Linked DNA regions of Homo sapiens. The protein of the gene in region 2 interacts with the protein of the main gene of each other region in a pairwise test. Each region holds a gene or a part of one and is shown on either strand. Other genes may lie near its edges.

The links. The genes of interacting proteins can lie anywhere in the genome.
Region 1: the proteins of DDX42 (region 2) and DHX15 interact in a two-hybrid assay, tested with the Homo sapiens proteins (one large-scale study listed by BioGRID and IntAct).

What each region holds. Positions count from the first base shown.
Region 1 is NC_000004.12:24,574,098-24,579,089, forward strand, and holds part of DHX15 (ATP-dependent RNA helicase DHX15), read right to left. Parts: intron 2,582-4,992; coding exon 2,146-2,581; intron 1-2,145.
Region 2 is NC_000017.11:63,811,229-63,816,220, reverse strand, and holds part of DDX42 (ATP-dependent RNA helicase DDX42), read right to left. Parts: intron 4,290-4,992; coding exon 4,013-4,289; intron 2,994-4,012; coding exon 2,767-2,993; intron 659-2,766; coding exon 548-658; intron 1-547. UniProt on the Homo sapiens protein: ATP-dependent RNA helicase that binds to partially double-stranded RNAs (dsRNAs) in order to unwind RNA secondary structures. Unwinding is promoted in the presence of single-strand binding proteins.

The DNA of each region.
Region 1 (4,992 bases), on a different chromosome or scaffold from region 2:
CAGGAGGCTGAGGCAGGAGAATCACTTGAACCCAGGAGGAGGAGGTTGCAGAAAGCCAAGATCATACCACTGCACTCCAGCTTGGGTGACAGAGCGAGACTTTGTCTCAAAAAAAAAAAAAAAAAAAAAAAGTTAAAGTCATTACTTTAGATTTTGTTTAGAGAATTTTTCTGACAAGAACAAATCACCAAAAAAAGACTGGCTTTAATGGTTTGAGTCAAAGTTTAATAAGAGCATGCTAGGAAACATTTGAATGAAATTCACTTTTTAAACTGTTTGGTTTCCCTTCAAATCCCCCAGATGTGCTGCAATCCTCAGTATCCAAGTATCTTAATTACCCCTCTAAAAGTTAAATATTAATCCAAATAATCACAAACCTCATCTTGAGTTGACCTGACCTCCTTCTACACTAACCATTAATAAACTCATCTCTGAAATGAGGCTACCCATAATCAGACCACAGAATAGCAGTATGAAATATAAAACTTTAGATATAAAGACAAAAGGTACAAAGTTTTAAATATTGAGCCCACCAAAATCCATAATCCATGTAACCCAGGACAATCCACTAAACCTAAGTTTCTCATAAACTTAAACCTCATTTTGCTCATCTGTAAAGTGGTGATGAATATCTTCCTGCAGGGTTATAGAAAAACGTAAATGAGCTAATACATGTAAAGTATACAGTGTCTGGCTTTACCCAAATATCAATTAAATAGTAAGTTCAGAGTTACAGTCTTTCTTGTAGTTTGAAAATTCTTAAAATTTCCGTAAGGTGATTTTTGAATACCCTAACATCAATTCTAAGTTTTCCTTCATTAAAAAAGAAAAATTGGCAAGGCTAAGGCAGGAGGATTGCTTTAGCTCAGGAGTTCAAAACCTCAACTCTACAAAAATTTTATTTAAAAATTAGCCAGGCACTGGTGGCATATGCCTGTGATCCCAGCTACTTGGGAGGCTGAGGCAGGAGGATCGCTTCAGCTCAGGAGGTTGACGCTGTGTTCATACCACTGCACTCCAGCATGGGTGAAAGACTGTCTCAACAACAACACAAAAATTAAAAAAAAAAAAAAGAAAAGAAAAGAAGAATGGTACTAAGGCTCAGTCTATAATAAAAGCTTCCTATTTTGGTTGCTACAGTACCTTCAAAATGTCTCCATGCACATGTAACTTTAGAAAAAGATAAATTGTGTATGCGGTATGTTCAATCTCTGCATGGTAAGACAGGTAATTCACTTCAATACTTTCCTGAATTTTTCAAAGTTTCTACAATGATCAGGGACTGCTACTTTTGAAACCAGAAATTTTTAATTGATGGTTCAGGCTTAAGTGTATAAAGACAGTTACTTCTCACCCACAGCAAGAAAATGCAAATTAAAAAGTACATTAGAATGCAATTTTTCACCTATTGGATTTGTAAAAATTCACGTTTTAATAGTTTCCCACGTGTTCTCCTACATGCTCATGGAAAGGTAAATTGATACGCTCCCTCTGGAAGGCTATCCAGCTTTCTGTATCACAATTACAAATGATCTTCTGACCCAGCAATTTCTGCTTCCTACAGAAACACTTGACCCATGCAAAACAACCATGGGAAACAGTCTAAATGTCTATCAACAGGGGTCTAGTTAATAATAGCCCATCCATGTTTAAAAAATATCCTAGCTATATTACAAATAACACACTAGTAACAGTGTTTAGTTCTATGGGAGGGAGGACGACTAGATGGACAAAAGTCACCGGTATAGACTTTATATTACTTTGGCATTTCATTTTTTGCATGGTTCAAAATACCATATTAAATACAAACGACAAAAATCTACCCCAGTGATTTCTCCACCCAAGTACCAGAAAACAAACTGTGGGTCCCTAAATCTGTACTGTCCGGGAGTCAAAATACCTCTGCCATACATAAGGTAACAAAATTTGAAAAGCGAGCACCACTATTTTCCCCTAGATTCAGGGGAGAGGTATTCTCTATAGGATTTCCACTCTGAAATTCAGAGTGCCAATTAAACATCAAATCAGCTATTCTTCAAGATGTTCTATAGGACAGACAAGGGAAATGACCACCAGAATCAAATATGCAACATTTGGTAAACTTAAACATAAATGAAATATGTACCATGGTATACAATAACTCACCTGTGTTGTTTTACCAGACCCAGTCTCACCAACCAGTACAAAGGACTGATGTCTAACCAGAATATCTGTAAACCTATCCTTGTATTCCCAAACAGGGAGCTGAAGACGTTTCTTTAGAATATCATAGTATCGAGGAGTATGGGGTAAGTTGGTGAACGGATTAATGCACTGTGGAAGTGACGTGTGACCTGCATGTCCGGCATGCGTTGAATGAGCAGAATGTGTTGAATGCGTTGAATGTGCTGAGTGGGTTGAGTGAGCTGAATGGGAAGCTTTCAAAGGTGGTAATCCAGCACTGATAAGCATAGCATTTGTTGAAGCTCGCAACTCCTTCTCCTTTTCTTTCTCCCTCTCTCGCTCTCTATCTCCTCTATCACGTTCTCGGTCTCGATCTTTAGACCGATCTTCACGATCCCGGTCTCGATCTCGATCCTTCCTAAAAACAAAAATTTAGAATTCAGATTCTGAATTTTATGCAGAATGTTCACGGTAGCGTTATAATCACAAAGAGAGTAAATGTCCAACGTTCAAATGAATAAAAAGTCCAATGGATTATGTAACTATCAGAAATAATAAAAAATACCCTACAATCAAGGGTTTCCCATTCTCCACCACAAACATCTTTCCCTTCCTTGCTGATGCCCCACCTTCCTTAACTTTTAACATTAGGTGAGGTAACACAAGAACTCAGTCTGCTGCAAGTAAAACCCCTCCTACTTAGACAACAGAAATCAGATACTGAGGGTAGGATGAAGAAAGGATAGGTCCAAATTGAGTAAAAGAAGATGGCATCTCAATCTTTCTCAAATTCTCCTTCAATTTGTGAAGAGGTATTTTGTGCACTAAAAGTATATTCAGAAGTTAGCACAAACACTGCTACTGGAGATAAAGACAACTCCACCTCACATCATTACAGTCAACAGTGGTGGGTTTTGCTCAATACTTTTATAATCCACTTCTAATAAATTACTTTAATATTCCTTTCTTTGCCATAGGACGATGTTCGGTTGTAATGCAAAGTGAAAAGAGCATAGTACAATGTTATACCTGTCAATATCTCAACTAATACAAATACGAATTACAGGACTGCAGAATTTGTTTTCTTAGTTATACTTTCCAGCACTTTCCCAATTTTGTTCAGTAAATGTATATTGCTTTATTAAAAAAACTGAAATTAAAACTTTTATTCCTTCTTGCTTGTTTACTCTTGCATTTTAACCTAAACAGCAACAGCAAAACACTGAAAGCACTCTATAAATCTATGTACCTTGGTCTACCATAAAATGAAACATAGCCAAATTAAAAATAAGCTTTGCTAAACACTATTAAGTTGTTTAACATGTTAAAATTATGCAGGTAGCCACTCTATTAAACCTGGGTCAATTTTAAGTAGTCAATGCTGGTATCTACTTCCAGTTACTAGAGATTGACCTTAATAAGTCATTTTAAAAGTATCTATGCTAAGAACTTCACAAGCAGAATGGCTGCAGGTTGTTCATATGCGTTGTGGCTGAAAGCAGCCTCTGGGAGACTGGTGGTGGGAATAAAATAAAATAATCTATGCTTGTTCATTTTACTAATCCAGTTTACTTCAGACCAAGTCCATCAGCAGAGAAATTTGCCTCAAGATCTTTAAACCCAGACTTGAAATAATGAGACATGACGGAGCTATGACACAAGCCCCGAAACATGTCATTGTTCCTTACCCACAATACACAAAAGTACAAATTCCCTGTGCTCCAAGTGCAGTTGTGTGACATGTACAAATTTACTCAAAAAGGGGAAAAGCCATATATATGCATATATAAACATGAAAAGTGATTTTCCCCTCTTCCATCCCAATGTTCACCTTCTACAAAAATCACAGAGCATACAAGCCAGAACTGTATGAAGCCTCTCATTTCACCTGGCATAAACAGAAAGAAAATCAATGGGAAAGAAAAGTCAAAGGATAACTTAATAAACATAAAATGAAGTCTCACAATTCAATACTTGAGAGTCTGGACCTATCTTCTGAAATATGCCATCAACTATCTTTGCTTCTCCTGCTTCTGGCCTAAGGTGACTGTTAATTAAGTGTTTACATTGCTCCAAAATGCCAACGAGGTGTAGTTTATAATAAGAGTACACAGAAATGTGCCCAGCAAAGTAAGAAGCACTGTACTCACAAATGGTTCAAATACTTGACACCTTAAAGATCATGGATCATACAGCTAGAAAAGAACTCTTAAAGAACATCTGGTCTGAACAAAAAGGATTCATGTTTCTAGTATTCACTCAACCATGGGGGAAGGAGGAGATGACAAAAAATATAATTGAAACAACTTCCTTTTTTTTGAGATAGGATCTTGCTCCATTACCCGGGTTGGAGTGCAGTGGCTCACTGGATCATGGCTCACTGCAATATCAAACTTCTGGGTTCAAGTGGTCCTCTCACCTCAGCCTCCCGAGTAACTGGGACTACAGGCATGCACCACCACGCCTCGCTAATTTCTTATTTTTGTAGAGATAAGGGTCTCACCATGTTGCCCAGGATGGTTTTCAACTCCTGGGATCAAGCAATCTCTTGCTTCAGCCTCCCAACGTGCTGGGATTACCGATGAGCTACCATGCCCAGCCTAGTTTAATGATTTCTATACTTCTAGCATAGTACCAGGCAATTAAGACATGGTCAAGAGTTACAAAATTTGGGGGAAGAGAGGTGACAAAGTAAATCATGTATTATATATTGCCTTAGTTTGTTAAAGTAATACCTATACTAACAAAGATTTTTTCAGGGGCCCACTTCATCAGATGCTTCATTACCAAACCAAACAAAGGATGTATAAAATACATTCTAAAGATAAA
Region 2 (4,992 bases):
CAAGGTGACAGAAAACAGGCAGTTAAGAAAGGCCACCAAAAGGGTACATTTGTTACCTGGTTTGTGAGAAAAACTAGCTCCCGACTTGGAAATTCCTGATCCGTTCCTGAGTTTAATGACAAGATATGGCTAGACTTTACAGTGACCCTTTGGCAACATTTACCTAGCAGCAGGCTTTAGGCCAGTGTTGAAGGGCTTATAAAACCAGACTGCTGGGCCCCAACTCCAGAGTTTCTGATTCACAAGGTCTGGGGTTGGGGATGAGTTTGCATGTGCTGCTGGTCCAGGGACCACAGTGTGAGATCACTGCTAATCTAGAATAATTTCCTGAGCAAGCCTAGTCAACCAAGTACACAAAGATGCTTCTTCAATAGAAAGTTACCATAAGAATGAGCACTGCATTGACTCAAATCAGATTAAATACAAATTCCCTTCTAGACAGGGCTTTAAACTCACTGAGGCTTTCCTGGGTAGATGAGAATATTCCTAATGACTTTCAGGACATGAGACCAACTATAAAGGCACTACTGTAGTAGTCTAGACTCACCATGTTCTCAGAGCCCAGGCCAGGCCGCTCCCTGTAGCCTAGGCCTCCTCCACCAATGTTCAGCTTTTTTCCTTTCCCTCCTTTGAATCGAGATTTCCGAAACCAGGCATTCTGCATTGAACAAAATTCAAGGTTAAGTCAAGGGAGGGAGAAAAGAACAGAAGAAGAGAACGAGGACAAAGAGGAAATTAAGTGGGAAGGGGGAACTTTTGCTTAATTTTCAGCCAGCACTACGCTAAGGGAGGAATTTTCACAGGAACCACAGATTGGTTTCTCTTTGGTAGCATAATCCACCAAATTTGAAAAGTGGCTGAGATCCTTATCTAAGGCTTCCTACAGTGCTCCCTCCCTCAAGGCTCTCCTGGAAGGGAAGTTGTTCAGGTAAGCTTCAAACCCAGAGGAGTAACTTTGGCTACTTCTAACTTCCTTGAGGAAAATGAGCTTATATTTTATTTCTCAAACCATGTATTATTGGACGTAAACATTTGGAACTTAAACAACTGGTATGTTCAGAAGCAAAGGAAAAATGCTATGTGAAGTGAGGCTTATCAGAACTGACTATAGGGACAGACTCCCAGAAAGGATGGTAGCCACACAACTGAAAATTTTATTTACCCGCAGAGCGTAAAAGTTTTCATTGAACTTGACCATTGCCACTCAACATATTTACTCACATTCTCTTAAGAATGCAGGGCGGTGGCTCACGCCTATGAATCCCAGCACTCTGGAGGCCGAGGTGGGCGGATCACTTGAGGCCAGGAGTCAAGACCAGCCTGACCAACATGGTGAAACCCCGTCCCTACTAAAAATACAAAAATTAGCCAGGCATGGTGGCACATGCCTCTAATCCCAGCTGCTTGGGAGGCTGAGGCAGGAGAACTGTTTGAACCGGAGACGCAGAGGTTGCAGTGAGCTGAGACTGCGCCACTGCACTCCAGCCTGGGTGATAGAGTGTGACTCCATCTCAGAAAAAAGAAAAAAAAAAAAAAAAAAAAAAAGCAAATGTCTCTGGGAAGGTTAAAGTTTTATCTGACAATCACATATTACCAGCAAAATAAAGTGCTTGAGAGGTAGGGCAGCAGGCTTGGACAAAGTCCTGAGCACAGAAAGCCTGAGGTACAAAAAGAAATGGAAGAAAATGCCAAAGTCAAAATGTGTCCTGTTTTAAAAGTTTATTTAGGACTAGCTCTCTGTGCTCAGGAGCAGGGGAGGAAACATTATTCTCTTCTCTCCTGCAGTGCAGGTCCTTTACTCCTAGGACCAGAAACTTGGGCACTGCCACATTGCAGCTGGGTTGTACCAGTTGTGTGAGCTGGCCTAGGCATTTGACAAACTCTTAACAGTTTCTGCTCTCAGAAAGTGTTCCGAACCCATTTGTAATTTGGGGACAGCATGGATTCAGATGACTCCAGGTTTGATTTGTTAGAATGCCTCACTTAGCTTTAGATTGGAGCACACCTGGAAGAGGGCAATCAGTGTGGTCAGAGGTCTGAGATCTCTGCAAGGAACAGTTAAGAGGCACCATACAGGCTGGGCACGGTGGCTCACGCCTGTAATCCTAGCACTTTGGGAGGTTGAGGCCGAGGCGGGCGGATCACCTGAGGTCAGGAGTTCGAGACCAGCCCGACCAACATGGCAAAACCCCATCTCTACTAAAATTACAAAAATTGGCCAGGCGTGGTGGTGGGCGCCTGTAATCACAACTGCTTGGGAGGCTAAGGCAGGAGAATTGCTTGAACCCAGGAGGCAGAGGTTGCAGTGAGCCGAGATCGTGCCATTGCACTGCAGCCTGGGCGATAGAGTGAGATTCTGTCTCAAAAAAAAAAGGTGGGGGGGCACTATACTATACACATATTGTTTTAAAGGCATCACACATTTTTAGCCTCCCAGAAGAAAAATTTTGTGGGGGAAGAGCAGTAAGGAGAATAGTAACCATCTTTGAGATTAAATTTACTCCTAAGTGTGCTATGGGGTAGAAATTACAGCGACAGATTTTAGCACAAAGGAATAGCTTTTCAAAACAGATGCTGTTGAAAGAAGAAGACCAGATAAGACTAGATGAATTTTAGTATCTCACAATTCCTATCTGTACCTCATAAGCCCCACATCCTCCTAGCCACCCAACTTTCTTGTCAAGTTTTTATGTTATCTGTTCCAGGACTGCTAAAATGTCTTGGTCTTATAACCAGGAGCAATTGAAAGTGTGCCCAGCCCCTCACCTGCATTGCCAGATCTAGGAGTTCCTTAGAAACGTGTTGATTGGCTCCTTCCAAGTTCCGGACCAGGTCACCAGCAAAATTGCTGTCCTTGGGAGTGAGTAGGGTATAGGCCACACCTTTCTCACCCGCTCTTCCTGTGCGGCCAATCCTATGCGTGTGGGTATCAATGTCTCGTGCCACATCATAGTTAATGACAGTCTTAATTGAAGGAATGTCCAGACCACGGGCTGAAATAAAAAGCAACCAAATTCTTTTATTCTTCATCTGTAGTCAGAAGATCAAAGTAACCAGAAATGCTAGTGCTAATAAGCCACATTTCCTTTATCTAGGCAAAGCGCATGGGTTTGGTGAGCTGAGATACAGGCATGTTAAGTCACCACCACAGATTCTATGATGTTAGGCCTTCTAGTGTAAGGGACTTTTATTTTTTAGAGACGGAGTCTTGCTCTGTTGCCAGACGGGAGTGCAGTGCCATGATCTCGGCTCACTGCAACCTCCGACTCCCTGGTTCAAGCAATTCTCCTGCCTCAGCTTTCCAAGTAGCTGGGATTATAGGCACGCGCCACCACACCCAGCTAATTTTTGTATTTTTAGTAGAGACGGGGTTTCACTATGTTGGCCAGGATGGTCTCGATCTCCTGACCTCAGGTGATCCGCCCGCCTCCACCTCCCAAAATGCTGGGATTACAGGTGTGAGCCACCGTGCCCGACTGGGACTTTTATCTTTTGCATCAGTAATCTGCCATGCCCTCTTCTCTTGCACTGGGAATATATATTTAAAATGTGTCATGAAGCTGAGAAGTTCTCTCCTTTCTAGGAAAAAATATCAGTGTTTAAGGGTAGTTATTAAAACTTGACAGAACAAATCCAGAAATTATATTCCAAAAACTGTTCTCATCCTGAGTTAAGTTGCCCAACTAAGCTGTGTATAGTAGATCAATGTAAGGGTAAGGTATCTACTATATTCAGACATACAATAAGGGCATTCACTGCCTTTTTTCCCAGAGTGACTTCTAGCTGCAGGGATTCTTTGATTAGAGAGAAATACTAAGTGAAAAGTGGTATCTAGAGCTCCAGACTGTGATCCCTGTGCTGAACTGCTGCTTCCTTGGGGGTTTGGGAGGGGATGGCCAGCCAGGCCAACAGTCTTTCCATCAGCCTGCTCAGATATTATAGGTCTTATGTAGTAAGACAGAGTACCCTTATAGCCTAGGAACTTAATGTTGTTGAAAAATTCATACTCTACCTGCAACATCTGTGGCCACCAGGACTGGGATGTCCTTTTTCTTAAAGTCTGAAATGACCTTGTTTCTCTCACTCTGATCCATATCCCCATGGAGCAGCCCAAGATTATGACCCTCCTGTTTAAGGTTATTCGCTAGCTCTTCAGCATTGGCTTTTTTAGTAACAAAGAGGAGGACACTCCCTGAAGAGGTAAATTCTACCAGACGCCGGGTAAGCCAGTTCCATTTACTAGGTCCAGAATGGAGAATCTCCACAATCTGTGTCACATCTTCATTTGCCTGAGAAGGAAGAAATGAAACAGATGATTGTGACATTGGAGCCACAGGGCACCTGAACAAGGACTAGGCATTATATTTCTACCTGCATCGAGAAGACCTTGAACAATCCCAGTTCTCCTTGGGCCTTCAGCAAGTCAAGTGCAGCTCAAAACTCACCTCTCCTTTCCAATCACCTTGCTCTCCACCTGGTGTACATACCTAATTTGTATGCCCCACTACTTTGTAGAGCTTTCCTTAACAATAACCATGGCAAGCAACTGAAGGATTCTCTAAGCAGCCATAACTGAATTCCAAGTCCCAATTCAGAGTAATTTTTCACATAGCGCATATGTACAGGTAAGAAATGAAACCTGATTTTTTCCAGGCCTTCCAGGTCACCCTTTCCCTCCTGCGTAGGCCCCTACCACAATAATTAAAACGTCAGTTCCAACCTAATACGCTGATGCTTCCAGGCACATCTTTTTGTCTCTTTGAAGCCTTTTTAAAACAATTGTAAGTTTTGAGACATTCAATAAAACAAAAAAAACACAAAATGAACAAAATCAACTCATACCCATCACCTAGCTTCAATGATTCCCAACATTTTGCCAGTCTTGTTACGTCTATCCCCACAACTTGCAAAATACCCAATCTCAAGCATGTTGCATCTATAAACATAACATCTTTTTTTTTTATCTCAATAGTGAGAAATTAATTCTGTGTT